Homo sapiens: one gene and its partner. The protein of the gene in region 2 purifies or fractionates together with the protein of the main gene of each other region. This does not show direct contact. Each region holds a gene or a part of one and is shown on either strand. Other genes may lie near its edges.

The links.
Region 1: the proteins of MORC4 (region 2) and HECW2 purify together in Homo sapiens (affinity purification with western blotting; 2 studies listed by BioGRID, with this or other methods). This does not show direct contact.

What each region holds. Positions count from the first base shown.
Region 1 is NC_000002.12:196,219,555-196,226,554, forward strand, and holds part of HECW2 (E3 ubiquitin-protein ligase HECW2), read right to left. Parts: intron 6,317-7,000; coding exon 6,218-6,316; intron 2,787-6,217; coding exon 2,657-2,786; intron 1,388-2,656; coding exon 1,241-1,387; intron 600-1,240; coding exon 485-599; intron 1-484. UniProt on the Homo sapiens protein: E3 ubiquitin-protein ligase that mediates ubiquitination of TP73. Acts to stabilize TP73 and enhance activation of transcription by TP73. Involved in the regulation of mitotic metaphase/anaphase transition.
Region 2 is NC_000023.11:106,997,167-107,005,108, forward strand, and holds the start of MORC4 (MORC family CW-type zinc finger protein 4), read right to left. Parts: upstream 3,047-7,942; 5' UTR 2,804-3,046; coding exon 2,702-2,803; intron 2,584-2,701; coding exon 2,511-2,583; intron 1-2,510. UniProt on the Homo sapiens protein: Histone methylation reader which binds to non-methylated (H3K4me0), monomethylated (H3K4me1), dimethylated (H3K4me2) and trimethylated (H3K4me3) 'Lys-4' on histone H3. The order of binding preference is H3K4me3 > H3K4me2 > H3K4me1 > H3K4me0.

The DNA of each region.
Region 1 (7,000 bases), on a different chromosome or scaffold from region 2:
TGTTGTATTTTGGGAACTGTGTCTTATTCCATTCAAGTGTTCTGACTATGAATTACAACTGATAAGGAGCGTAGTGAACAGTGGAAAAACTGTGCTGATTGGGAAGCTCAAAGGGTGTGCTTTTCTAAGTTTTAGAAACAAAATGGAATAGGTGGAGTTTGACCAGCTGGATGTTAGCTCCTTGGTGCTTCACTGACAACACGATAAAGTAATTAATTAGTGTTCTTACGGTCACATTTCCTCACCAACAATTAAGAGTTATGACATCCTTTGACGGTGTGTAAACAGTCCTTCTCCCATCTGACAGATGAGGTAATTAGGAAAAGAAGAGAATGTACCTTGCCCAAGGTCTCAAGGGAGCCTGCATCAGACCTATGATTAGAGTCCAAGTGCTGTTGCCTGTCCTATATTCAGTTGGCAAGCTGAACCATGCCTTCCTTTAATTTGAAATTTAAAATCTAGCCATCTATAAATCAAATTTCACCTCCTCTATATTCTGTGTTGTTTCTCCAATCACTTAGGTCTATTTCAGCTGTGCCTGCGATGACCAATTCCAGTTCTCTTGCATCAAAAACAGATACCAGCCTGGCATCCACCACCTGTGGAATAAAAAGAGTACAAGGCATGGCTTAGGAGCCTGGAGAAATATCAGCTATAATTAAGCCTTAGAAAAGGGGACACATGGAGTTTCAGGAATAATATGTGTGTACCTTGTGTTGGCACTTGAAAACCTGTAAAGCTCCCTACAAATATAAGGCATTCTTTAGTATAAGGTTGATGAGATTTGCCTTGACAGAATTTTTGTTTTATAATTGATTGCTGATTAATCTAGGTCCCGTCCACCTTTAGGAAACTATCTAGTGTTTCTACAGAAAAAGTCACATACAATACATGCCAACTCATTCTGATCTCAGATATAATTATTTCACATAGCAAGCATGAGATTTGATTACCCATATCTAAGCATAAGATGCATGGCTTAAATGTTACTAGTGGTCATTAAATCAACAAATGCTACTTGAATGCAGTCCATAACATTTATTTCAGTGATCTCTCGTAACAGTGAGTTAAGCTTCTTTTGGTGCTCTTGAAACATAAGGGAAAAAATACTGAACTTTTCGCATGGAAAGAGCAACAGTAAATACAGCAGAAATAGTCTACACATGTAAAGTACAATAAGATGGACTGTGGCATCATTGATATCAGACTGCAAACTCCTCCTACTGCTGATTGTCTTTACCTCATAGAAGCCACGCACTAAGCTCTCTGTTTGCTGTACAACACCCCTCTCAATCCTCCACTTCACCATCCTCTCGATGTACTCCTTCTTGTTCTTCTCTGTAACTGGGATATTGGCACCCCCTGGCTTTAATTCTCGTTCAGTTATCTGAGATTACAAAATAAAAAGAATGACTACAAAGCAATACTCTTAATGTTATAACAACATTACTAGCATTGAGCTGAAATCAGCCAGCTACCTGTCCCAGCCCTGCCCTAGGCACATCCCACAAGCTGGCAGTGAGGCCCCAGGCACTCACGGAGCACACACACTCAGGAAAAAATAGGCATTGAGGGGGTGCTTGAAAGCTTTGGTGATTAAAGTATATATATGTATTGCTGTTACTACAGGTTAAGTTTTAAAATGCCGATGAATCGGCTTCAGATACTAGCCTGCTACTATTTGAATGTTTGACAAAACCCATTTTCACAAATTTCTCAGAATTGACTATATCTAGCGTAAAGATTTACTTTAAAGCAGAATTACACTCAAGTGAATGTTAAATTGAGAACTTTTTCAAAACACATGGAATGCAGAAAAGCAGCTAAAGATTAATGCCTAAATAAGAATATTAATTATAAACTGGTATATAATTTCTGGAAGAAACGTTTTCCCTACTCTTCCACCAATTTTGAAAAAAAAATTAATATATTCTGTTCTTAAGTCTTCCCCAAAACATTGTTTATGTTCCCTTAGCTTCAAAAAAATCAATTTTGGTTCTCTTTATTTTTCTTTTCTTTTTTGAGACAGGGTCTCACTCTCGTCCCCCAGGCTAGAGTGCAGTGGCATGATCCAGGCTCACTGCAGCCTCAACCTCTCCAGCTCAGGTGACCCTCCCACCTTGGCCTCCTGAGTAGCTGGGACTACAGGTATGTGCCACCACACCTGGCTAATTTTTGTATTTTTTGTAGAGATAGGGTTTCACCATGTTGCCTAGGCTGGTCCTGAACTTCTAGGCTCAACTGATCCTCCTGCCTTGGCCTCCCAAAGTGCTGGGATTACAGGCATGAGCCACCGTGCCCAGCCACCATTCTATAAATGCCAATTAAAAAATTCTGTAGTGTGGACTTTAAAAAACTGCATTCTATATAAGGTAAATTCTCATATTTTGGGGGATATTTTAGTTGGAAATAAAAAGAAGATTGCTTACAACATAAACAGTTATCACCATCTGTAATTTACAGCATCTTAATCTGCAGCTGACATTAATTCTAATCTTTATAACTGCGGTTATTATAACTGTGTGTGATCCTGAGTTTAAATCACCCAATAAACCACGAATAAATAAGCATCTGATCTTAGCCATGGAGTTAATTCTTCACTCATCAATAGCCTTCAGTTACCACACTTAGGCGCCAGGTGTGCAGATACACACACCTGCCCAAATACTTCTTCGTTCACAGTGAACGTGAGGTCTAGGATGTCATGGATATCATTGTCTTTCATCCACTGCAGGCTCTGATGGAACTCTTCATCAAGGTATTCTAGGTCACTCAGGTCACATAGACTAAGATGACAAACAGACAGAAACAAATATGTAGGCATGGCTATTAGCAAAAACCCAGAGTCATAAGGAAAGAAACTAAGAATTAAAGAGAAGAATAAGAGCCACTACATAGGCAGTGATTTCTGGAATGTTCTTAGTCCAAGTCCAGTAATTAAACCAAACCAGTGAAATAATTCAGAAATTTGTTATAAAATTAGAAAGTCCTAAATATATAATATGCCACAGGAATCATTCAGCCTGCGTCTTCCTTTATAGACACAGAACTGGAGGTGCAAAGAATGAGTGCCATCTGCGCAGTCATCCATCATCAATGCCAGATCAGGAACTGGCACTCGGGTTGACAACTTGGATCCATTATTCTTTCTGGCCATATTATACTACCTTAAAATACTGTTATCTTAATTTGAAATTATTTATATATTTCTATATTTTAACTTTTTTTAATTGAAAGACATGATTTTTATTTTAATATTTATTTTATTTTATTTTTTATTAAAGACATGATTCATCTTCACATACATTCCCTTTTTCTTCATGGTTCTTATTCTGAAAATAGTAAGCCACAGAACCTGCCGTCAATCTGTATTTTTCCCCCACTTTTTTTAATTGTAGAGAAAGAATCGACATGAGGTAAGTTACTGTTCCATGGCCCAGTTGTACAGTGGTAGTCATTGATTTGCTATAGCTGTTTTGAAATTTCACTCCCCTTAACCCAATTTTAAGGGTCATTTTTTTTCAGTTCAATCTGAACATTCATTAGGCATCAAGCATGTACCAGACATCTGAATAGCTACTTGATGAATAGTCACTACCCCCAGGAGCTAATGGGCTAGTTGGGGAGCCAAGTACACAAACAGATAAGTTAATATAAAGCGATAAGTGATAACATAAGATTGGTAACACTTAAAATTCATGTACTTTTAAAATCTATGTCACACTTCAATTTAAGAAAAGATAAGGTAGGGATAGGGATTTAGGTGTCAGAGCACACATGAGGGGCCTTTTCTTTGACTGAGAGATTCAGGAAAAGCTTTTTGCAGAAGATGATGCCTACATTAAATCTTTCAGGATGTTTAAAAGCAAGAGACGTAAAAAGGAATACATGAAGGAGGAGAAGGGGAAAGAGAAAGGAGAAAGAGAGAATAACATGAACAAAATACAAGGCATGGATGTGTACAGGAAACTCCAAGCATATCAGCAGTTTGAGAGAGTTAACCTTAAGACAGAATTTCTAGAGAATGAGGCCAGCAAGGGAGCAGGCCTTAATATCATCCTAAGGAGATTGGTGATTCAGAACTACCAAAAGATTTTAAGACAGGGCATGACATGATCAGACGTGAAATGTGAATTATAAACAGCTCCTCTGGAAGTCCCAGTGTGAAGGATTATTTAAAATGGGGTGGGATGAGGGGTGGTTATCATTAGAGGGTAGAGACCAATGAATAGACCACTACAGTAATATGGCCAAAATAAGATAAGGGCTCTAACTAGGGCTGTGCTATTAAGGTTGGAGAGAAGAAGATGAATTTGAAAATCATTTAGGAGGCAAACATGTAGCAATCAGGAAATGGTTTTATTGGGGGAGTATAAAGAAGGATATCTAAAACAGGGGTGACAAACGAACTCATGTCAAAACTAACTGTAATTAATTGCTGGGCTTGAGCACTATAAGTTAAAAAGATTTCTGAGGCCACAGTGAGTTCAGTGGGAAAAAGTACCACAGGTGATTTGTGAACTCTACCCTGGGAATGATGGGGTAGAGTAGAGATGGGGAAGAGTAGAACATGTACCGTGTGTATTTGTCATCGCTGTTTAAGGGTGACTCCCAATTTCTGACCAGAGTGGCCTGAGAATAGTGGCACTATTAACTGTAACTGGGCATATGGGAGAAGGTATACTTTTACGTAGGGAAACTTGATGAGCTTAGTCTTAACCATGTTGATTCTGAGATCCTTGTAAGACATCCGAGTGGAGATATTTGGTGGACTGTTGACCATGTGAGGCTACACCTTAAGGGAGATCATGACTGAGAGTACAGATTTGGGAGTCAGAGGAGATAAGACAGGAGAAGAAATTCCCCCATGAGAGCACACTGAGTGAGAAAACGAGGGGCCTGGTGATAGAAGCTTCAGGTACACCAAGACTTAAGGGCAAATCAGAAGAGGGACTCATGAAGGGACAGAAAAGTTAAAAAAAAGAACCCGCAAAGTACAGTGTCATAGATGCCAGCTCTGAAGGAAAGACACAGGAATAAATGGTGGCGGGTGTGGGTGGTGCACAGTGTCAGAAGCAGCAGCATGATCCAATAAGATACGGACTAATCAGTATTCTTTAAATGCCTCCACAGGTTTTCTGGTGGGAAAGAAACCAGGCTGAAGTGTGCTTAGGGTGTGAATTTGAGGTAAGTGTAGACAGTCAGTATAGACTAGTTTTTCAGGAAGCTTAAATGAGAAGATAAGAGATAAGGCAATGAAATGGGAAGATGCAAAGTGGGCCACAAAGAACCAAAGAGACAGAAAACGGCACCTGTTCCCCAGTGCTACAGCTGTGAAGACACTGAAAGAGAAGAAGGCAAAAGTCTTTCTACTGACCCTCCCAAGGGCCCACAAGAAGCATTTTGTTTGCTTTCATTTGAGGTCTAGGCTTCCATTTTACAGTAAGCAAGTGCGTGGCCTCAGTTAGGGTATGAGCTGGACAGAGCCAAGTGATAATTCAGTGCATTCTCATCGCAAATTTGAGCTACTATCCCACAGACAGTTGTCTTCTGTTCAGCCTTGTAAATGGCTGCTGATTATAGGACAGAAACAATTAGCCCTACATTTTACAATAACTGCAATCTTTCATTAACAATGAAGAAAAAGTTCTGTGAATGCTGAATTTTCATTTTCCATAATAAATTACTAAGGGCATAGAGAAAGTTTAAGAAACATATGGCACTGTCCACCCTTGACAAACAAATAAAAAACAAAACCAAAACAAAGGAAAATGAAGATTTGAACGAGGAGTAAGCATTTGAAAATATGCATCAAGCCAAATATAAAATGTGTCTCATAAAGGAGAGGGGGGCTGTGAGTCACTAAGACTAACCCACAACAATTCTATTAATAATCTGCATTAATACCACAGGAATCCCAGGGCTGTGTTTGAAGTACAATTGTTTTAAAGAAACACATGCTGCAACAAATGAGAATAAATTTTGGGGGGTAGAGCAAAACTAAAAATCTGGGGGCTAAATAGGTCAGAGGCAGGAAAAACACAGTAATCATATTTGAAATTGCATTAGTTTCAGAAATCTAAACCACTATTAGGTTTAATAACAACAAATTTGAGATTGTGAACAGATAAACAATGACTTTGACAGAAGAATTTTTTCAAAAAAGTAAATACTGCATTTTACATGCTAATTATGCAGGCAATAAAAATATTCTTACATTCTGAGAAGAGCCTTATAAAAGGGCCGTGTGAAGAAGGCATCCAACAAATACTGGTGTATTAGTGCAAGACCAAGGATCCTACCACTGAATCGGAACCTGTGAAGGAAACACATGAGATGGCTTACATGTCATGGAGCAGTTTCTAGGTGGTTCCATATGCTTTCTAGAATGCCTTCCAGCGCTAACCATCTAAATTTTTCCAATATTAATTGCCTACTAGGTAGTGAGAATTTGTAGGCACCATGGGCTGTGTCTTCATCAGGCCAGTGGTACAGTTTGTATACTTGTCCCTGCCCAAATGTCATGTTGAATTGCAATCCCCATTGCTGGGGGTGGGGCCTGGTGGGAGGTGTTTGGATCATGGAGGCTGATCCCTTATGGCTTGGTGCTATCTTCATGATAGTGAGTTCTCATGAAATCTGGTCATATAAAAGTGTGGCACCTCCCTCCAACACACACACACACTCTCTCTCTCTCTCCCTCCTGCTTTTGTCATATGATGTGCCTGCTTCCCCTTTGCCTTCCACCATGATTGAAAAAGCTCCCTGAGACCATCCCCAAAGCCCAGTGATTTGGGTGCTATGCTTCCTGTACAGCCTGCAGAATCATGAGCCAATTAAACTTCTTTTCTTTATAAATTACCAGTCTCAGGTATTTCTTTATAGCAATGCAAGAATGGGCTAAAACAGCCAGTAATTCATACCTACTTGTTGAAGAATCAGTTTCACTCATATTTAGAGACCCTGCTCCACCTTCACTGCATATCAACAATGTAGCACC
Region 2 (7,942 bases):
TGAATAGACCACAAATTTGAAATTTAAGTAATTTTCTTATCCCTCCCTCTCCTTTACCCTATGCATCCCTAGACGTTCTCATATCCTATTTACTCTATTTCCATTGTCAGTCTCTTACAGAGTTTATTTCCTCTCATCTGGATTATTGCAATAACCTCCTGTCATATAAATCCGTATCTCTCTCCTTCAATTGTATACACTGCTGCAAGACTGACTTTCCTGAAGCACAGCTCTGATCATGACATTCCCCTGCTCAGAAAACTTCAGGCTAAAAAGCCAGATATTGGAGCCTCCCAATCACATCCTGATCCCAGATGACCTTTTTAACCTCATCCTTACTTAGTATCTGGCGTAAAAAGGCCTGTGTTTGAGTCCTGGATCTGCTACTTAGTATATATGTAACCTTGGAAAAGTCAACTAAATTTTCTGAACCTCTTTTTCTTCATCTGCAGGATGAAAATAAATGTTTACCTCAAATGGTAATGTTAAAAAGTTATTTGTGAAAGCTGCTTGTAAACTTTTTAAGTACCTATCGTTTTTACTATTTGTGAACCCCATGCTCTAATTAAACTCCACTCAATATTCTTCATGCCTTTGTTCAAGCAGTTGTTCCTTTTGCCTGGAATTCCTCCCCGCCCATATCCACATGTCCCAATCCTTCAAATCTCAGCTTAAATGTCACCTCCTCCACAAAGCCTTTCCTAACCTTCCTCTTCCTGATAAACTGGAAGCCATTCCTCCTTCCTCTGAACTCCCACAGCACTTGTTTTTATCTTTGTTTATATATCGATTTCCATTTTGTTGTTAGACAAAGCATAAACCTTCTGTACATGTTTTATCTCCCCTACTAGAAGAGTGAATCTGTGTTGTATTCATTTTTGTGCCTACCACAGTGGCCTTGCGCACAGTGGGTGCTCAATAAATATTTACCAAATGAATGATTCACTAGAAAATTAATGCTTAAGTGGAGAAAATGATTGAAGGAAAACCTAAAATGAAAGCTTTGGATTGCCAGTTAACACTTTGCTCTCTCTTTTCCCTATTATTAATATTTTCACAAATAGTTGTTATTTGGTCTTAAAATCTATGTTTGTATACATGTATGCATGCATGTGTGTGCATAATACATACACATACTCGCGCTCATACTGGACGTCTTAGATCCGGCTTAGGTTCTTTAAGGTAATGCTTATGGCCAAAATCACAAATATCCAAAATTACAAATTGGAAACTCATTAAATCACCTGGAAAGTACAGTAAGCACAGCACAGGTATATCACGTTCTGCACCGTGCCAACCATGAGAGAACAATACATTTCGCTTTCCCATCCCCCACTATGTAAATCACTACTTTTTGCTCCCTTGTAGTCTTTCTTGTAAATTACATACTTAACTTGGATTGTATTCCATTCTGCAGAGGTTCAGTGCACAGCCCCAAGGCACAGTACCAAACCTCAAAGATACAGTCCCTCTGCTCTAGGGTTCCAAACGTATCAATTCCACTTTTTGCCTTTCACCTTCTAATTAAATTACACATATTGTAAAGCATTCCGTGTTATGGTTAATCATCAAAGGTCTCTATCATTCTTATCACCCTTCCAAGTAAGTCCCCTGCTACCCATTGACTTCTTACCCAAGATAACTCTCATGGCATGGCCACAGCGACTGCTTAAGTAGAGACCGGGGTTCATTTGGGGAGCTTTGAAAACATTTTCAAGAGTTTGTTCTGTGCAACCTTGCCCATAAACACTTCTTCCTTCTTTCGATTTTCAAAGCATGTATAATGCGCCCTGTATGCTGCTGCGTTTTGTGCAGGACTGCGTTTCTTCTTTGCTTTCCACACAGTAGCACACTACTGCAAAAACTGGTGTAATTGGCTTGAAGGGATCAACTGAAAACACTTTAAAAGCAAACACCGGTGGAGCGAGAGGTTAAGTCCTCAATATTCATTCCAGCGGTGTGAGGGCGCTCGTGGACCACGGACCCAGCCCTCCGCAGTAGCAGGGAGCCAAATGCACTCGTGTCATCTCTTAAGAGATGTCCCATCATTCCTAACTTTTCTTGTCTCAAAAGTTAAGGAACTCCGCTTTCCAGACCTTTCCCCAGGACCCGCCTCGGTCCTCTACGCCCCTTTGCTAGCTAGGCATCCTCCGTCGGTCGCCAGCCCCTGCGGACCCAGCTGCCTCAGGGCCCGAGGTTTTTATGCATCTCCTTTTGATTACTAACTAAGCTATCCTAAAGTGCCCGAACGTCACGAGCGCGAGAGAAAAACCACACTGGTGTCTTTAACGCTTCAGACACACCTCGTTTCCTCCGTTTTATGAGCGGAACCTAGTTCCTGGCGAGAGAGCCATCCCCCTCCTCCGCCTGCGGAGCCGGGGCCGGTTCCGAGGCCCCCACCCCAGCCCCGGCCCGCCCCGCGCGGCTCTGCGCATTCCTCTCGCGTCCGCGGCACCACGCTGGCACCACTGCCTCGGGCGAACACGGCCGGGCCCGCCCTCGCCACTCACCTAGCAGCTCCGCGATGGCACTGAAGGGTCGCGTGTGGCTGCTGGAGTTGCTCTGGAGGTAGCGGGGGCTCATCTGGGGGCGAGAGAAGGTCCCGACCCGCGTGAGGCCTCGGCCCGCCGGGCCCTCCCCGCGCGCCCCCCGCAGCCCAGGGGCCCGCGCGCGCGTCCGCCCCCTCGGGCCCCGGACCTACCGTGCTCAGGCGGATCCCGAAGGCCTGCGGGCCGCCGCCGGGCCGGGCCAGCCCGCAGCCCGGCGCGCCAGGGCCGGCGGGGGCCCCTCGGTACAGGAGCATTTTTTTGGCCGCCACGGTACCCGTCTGCTGCCGCCGGACCCCTGGCCCGGCGGTCCGGGACTAGCCCTCGCTCACTTCCACTCGCAGCTGGCGGCGACCGTCCGGGACCGGCCCTCCCTCGCTCCCACTCGCAGCTGGCGGAGGCGGAGCGCGCTCCAGCCACCTGTCCCGGGCGGGAGGGGTGAGGCCGGCTGAGGCAAGCGGCGGCTCCGCCCTGTCAGCACCTCTACCGACCCGGCGACTGCCCGGGCTGCCTCTGGGCCGTACAGAAATATGGCGACCTCCTGACAGCCGCTCCTTGATCCCCGCCCCTAATTAATTATTGGCGTATGCCATAGGCCAGGCCGCCGAGCGGGAAAGCGCGGGGGGCGGGGGTGGCGCGTGGGGAGGGGCGTGAATGAAGCAAGAGGAGGGAGAGCATGTATGGGATTTCTGGAACCTAGTCCCGCTTAGGCTGCATGACTAACAGGCAAGATAAGACAAGTCTTTCAAGTTCTAAAGACTACAGTGTTGCTATCTGGGAAGATAGCAAGCTCGCCTGATGGGAAAACATTCTACCTACTCTGCCTCAAATGCCTCCAGAAGCACCCAGAACTTTCTGGAAGGCAATTAGCAAACTATCTCCAAAGTCTTGCTAGCATGCAGGGACGGTGTTTCTAAAAGGAGAAATTGGATTCACTTAAATACCGCCAAGTAGGGGATTGGTCGAGTTATGAAGTATGCATAAAATGAAATACCATCCAGTTCTTGAAGGCCATGTTTGTAGATAAGTATGTGTTGATGTAGAAAAATATTCATGAAGGAATGAAGAAAACAAGGAGTTACAACATATTGTGGAACGCATGATGCCTTTTCTATTGGAAAAACAAATATATATGTATACATATATACATATATATATATGCATGCATACACACATATACACATACATACATACATATATATATACACACACACACACACAACGAAAACCACTTGATATACACCAAGATGATATCTCTGGGTCTGGAACTAGACACTTTTTCCTTTTTTCTTACCTGTGTTTTCTAATATACTATAAATATACACTGATAATAGAAAAACAGATTCATTAAAAACATATGTAATGTTCTATGGCATGAATGAACTATAATTTATTTGACCATTCCTTTATGGTAATTTAGGTTGTCCTCTTTTTTTAATTTTGACAATACAAAAAATGCTCCTTCACACACTCGTGTACAGGTCATTAATTTCTGATACTGTTATCTCCACAGAATGAATTCCAAAAGATGAGACTGCTGCATCTAATAGCATGTGCATGGTTTAATCTTAATAAATACTGTAAGATAGGCAATTTGCCCTCCCAGCAACAATCAGTGCTCTTTTGTCATGTTCATAGCACTAGATGGTCCCAATCTTTTAACTTTTTGATAGTCTTTTCAATAAAAAATAGTATCTCCTTATTGTTTTAATTTGCATTTTCCTGACTACCAGTAAGGCTGAATATCTTTTCAAATGTTTAGTATACATTTGCATCTCCTCTTCTACAAATGCCTGTTTATGTCCTTTGAGCATCATTTTTTACCCCCATTGGGTGCTTTACATTTGTCTGTTTTTTAGTTATCTTTTCTTCAATTTTTTAAAATACACAAAAGTACAGAAAACAATATAATGAATCCCATGTACTTATTACTCAGATGCAGTAATTATCAAGACTGCCACACCTGCTGCAATGGACTGAACATTTGTGCCCCGCCAAAATTTGTATGTTGAAATCCTAACTCCCAATATGATGGTATTAGGTATTGGGATTAGGAGTTGGGGCCTTTGCCAAGTAATTAGGTCATAAGGGTGGAACCCTCATGATGGGATTAGTGCCTCATAAAAAGGACCCCAGAAAGCTCTCTCATCCTCTTTCTTCCATGAGGACTCAAGAAAGGGTCTGAATTCTGCAACCCAGAAGAGAGACCGTACCAGAACCTGATCATCTGCTGTTAATACGCAACCTAGTCTATGGTACTTTGTTAACAGCAGCCAGATCTGACTAAGGCACTTGTTTTCTATATCCCTTTTCTTCTTTTTCTTTTTCTTTTCTTTTTTTTTTTTTTCCATTTCTGTAAGCTGTGAGCATTTCAGGGCAAATCTCAAACATCATGCCATTTTATTTTACATACTTCAGTGTTCTTTAGAAACATGGACATTTTCTAACAAACATAACCACCATGCCACTTTTATACCAAACAAAATTTATACTAATTCTTTGTTGTCTTCTAATACCCAGACTTTTTTTTTTTTTTTTTTTTTTTTGAGACAGGGCCTTGCTGTGTCACCCAGGCTTTAGTGCAGTGGTACGATCTTGGCTCACTGCAGCCTTGACCTCCTGGGACCAAGCAATCCTCCCAACTCAGCTTCCTGAGTAGCTGGGGCTACAGGCACATGCCATCACACCCAGGTCATTTTTTTACTTTTTATATTTTCTAGAGACGAGGTTTTGCCACGTTGCCCAGGCTGGTCTCAAGCTCCTGGGCTCATGCAATCTACCTGATTTGGCCTCCCAAAGTGCTGGGATTACAGGCGCAAGCCACTTTGCTTGGCCCAGTCCATATTCAGATTTCCCCCAATTGTCTCGGAAATGTCTGCTTACAGTTGGTTTGTTTAAATCTAGACTCCAAGTGCACACATTGCACGTGGTTATGTGTCTTAAATCCATTTCAATCTAAAAGTCTCCCCTCTCTTTTTTTTTTATTCATGTTATTGATTTTTTTTTTTTTTTTTTTTGTAGAGATGGGTTCTCCCCATGTTGCCCAGGCTGCTCTTGGACTCCTGGGCTCAAGTGATCCTCCCACCTCGGCCTCCCAAAGTGCTGGGATTACACGTGTGAGCCATCATGCCCAACCCCTTGAGTTGTTGAAGAAACCAAGACAGTTGGACTGTTGAATGCCCTACATTTTCATTTGTCTGTTTGCTTCTTCATGTTACTTAACTTGCTCCTCTTGTTACAGGAAAAAGTGTAACTTAACTATAAACCATAAATTGTCTCTAGAGTCTTAGAGTCTAGTACAATGTTTTCTAAATAGGAATGCTCATAGATGGTGCTGTATAGTTCCCATTGCATCACATCAGGGAATACATACTGTGCAACACTTAGACATGTTCAGATTCATTGGTGACTTCAGGGAGAGGCAGCCTGAAGCTTCCACTATAAATTTCTCCACCATCCTTTTACTTCATGGTTTCATTGTCTGAAAAAAATATGTTATTAGGACTGCAAAATTATGATAGTCAATCTCATAATTTCTTCTAATTTATTAACTGGATCATTCTGTATAGAACTTACCTTCATCAACCATGGCTATTTGGCTAATCTGAAATACAATTTATATAGGAAGGACATGATAAATGCTTAACTCTTTACTTTTAATTGGCAATTTTTAATGTAAAGAGATGATGCCTGTGATGGATACTGTGATGCGTCAGCCCACCTCTCATTTCAATAAAAGACTTGTTGGCTGAGCTGCTGGGAGAAATGTTGACAGACTGCCTTCAGCTGTTAGCCCTTCAGGGATTGCTTCAGGTAATCTCTGCCTTACCCAAGGTCACAGACTTTTCTGGGACAGCCTACAGTAACTGACCAAAGAGGGGGTATAAAGACCTGACTGTCTCAACCCAATTTGGGACAATTGGGAAGGGTCATTCTAACTCCAATTCTCTCTGTGGGGTTGGCTCTCTGCTATTGAGCCTGCATTGTAGCTCAGTGTTCCCCTCTGCCCACACCTACTTCATTGCACAGATCCTAATCTAAGAATACCTCTTAATAAGCACCCTGCACACAAAGCTCTTCCTTGGAATCTGCCTCCTGGGGAACTCAAACTGTAACACTTGAAATTGGGAGTGATCCAAGAAAGTCGGGACTATGATGATATTTGGTAAAAGGCAAAAGATTTATACGATCCGAAGAGAAACCAGAGCATTTGGATGATATTTGGGAGCTAAATCACTTACTGCCCAGTTGGCAATGAGGACCATACCACAGAGTGGATGGAGCACAGATAGCCCCCTGCCACAAGGCAGCAGTCCTATTATTGTTAAAACTTCCACCAGGTGTGAATTGGGATGGTAAAAGGGAACGTATAATCTTCTGTGATGTTTCAAGTGTTTGAGAAATATGGAGGAAGTAGTAGCTATAAAACCAATGGAAGGCCAAGGTAGGAGGATCACTTGAGCCCAGGAGTTCAAGGCTGCAGTGAGTTATGATCATGCCACTGTACTCCAGCCTGGGCAACAGAGCGAGCCCCTGACTCTGAAACAAAACAAAACAACAACAAAAAGAACCAATGGAATTTAGTGGTTATTGAGGTCTAAAAAGGAGTAAATTCCCAATGGAGAAATAGACACACATTTGCTATGTCAAAATCGGGATGCTGCCCGGGAAAGAATGAGACCCTGACACATGGTTTGGGGCTATCTAGATTGATGCTACCAAAATCTTGAATCCTTAGATTTCCCTGAACCAGCTGAGCCCATAGAACTGGTGCAATTTCCCTATTGGTAGTACCCACGCCCGCCCCATCCTCTTGCTTGCAGACATGCAAAGCTTCTCCCCAACAAGACAACATGTGCTTTCCCCTCCCCTCCTTGCCATTAGGCCTATAACAAGGGCTAAGGCACAGCATGGACATGTGAGGCCTGATCAGGGAGAAGAGCGATTATACGTCAAAAAGCTGCAAGATACCCAGCGTGGATTGGCAGGAACTGGAAGGGTTCACATGGAATTGAATTCTGAGACTGCTTGATCAAGAGAGCTAGTCTATAAGGTGGGATAACAGGCAGTTTATCAATTTTGGAGCACTACTCTGGAATATAGGATTTAACACTCTGGCAAGGACCACATGAGGTAGAATAGTCTCACAATTAGATGACTCCTTGAAGTACAGAAAAAGTGATGACCCATGCTAAGTGAGGTTGAAATGCCAGCATTGCTGTGACAATAGTAGAAGAAAGGATTAAAAGATTCAGAAGTGAGCCTACTGTAGTGGATAGATCAAACAAGCCTGGAAAACTCAAACAGAAAAACCCAGGATACACCATTTATCAAGGTGATAAGGAATGTGCTAACAAGAGGGGCACCAGCACCACTGAGAAATTCACTGGTGGCTC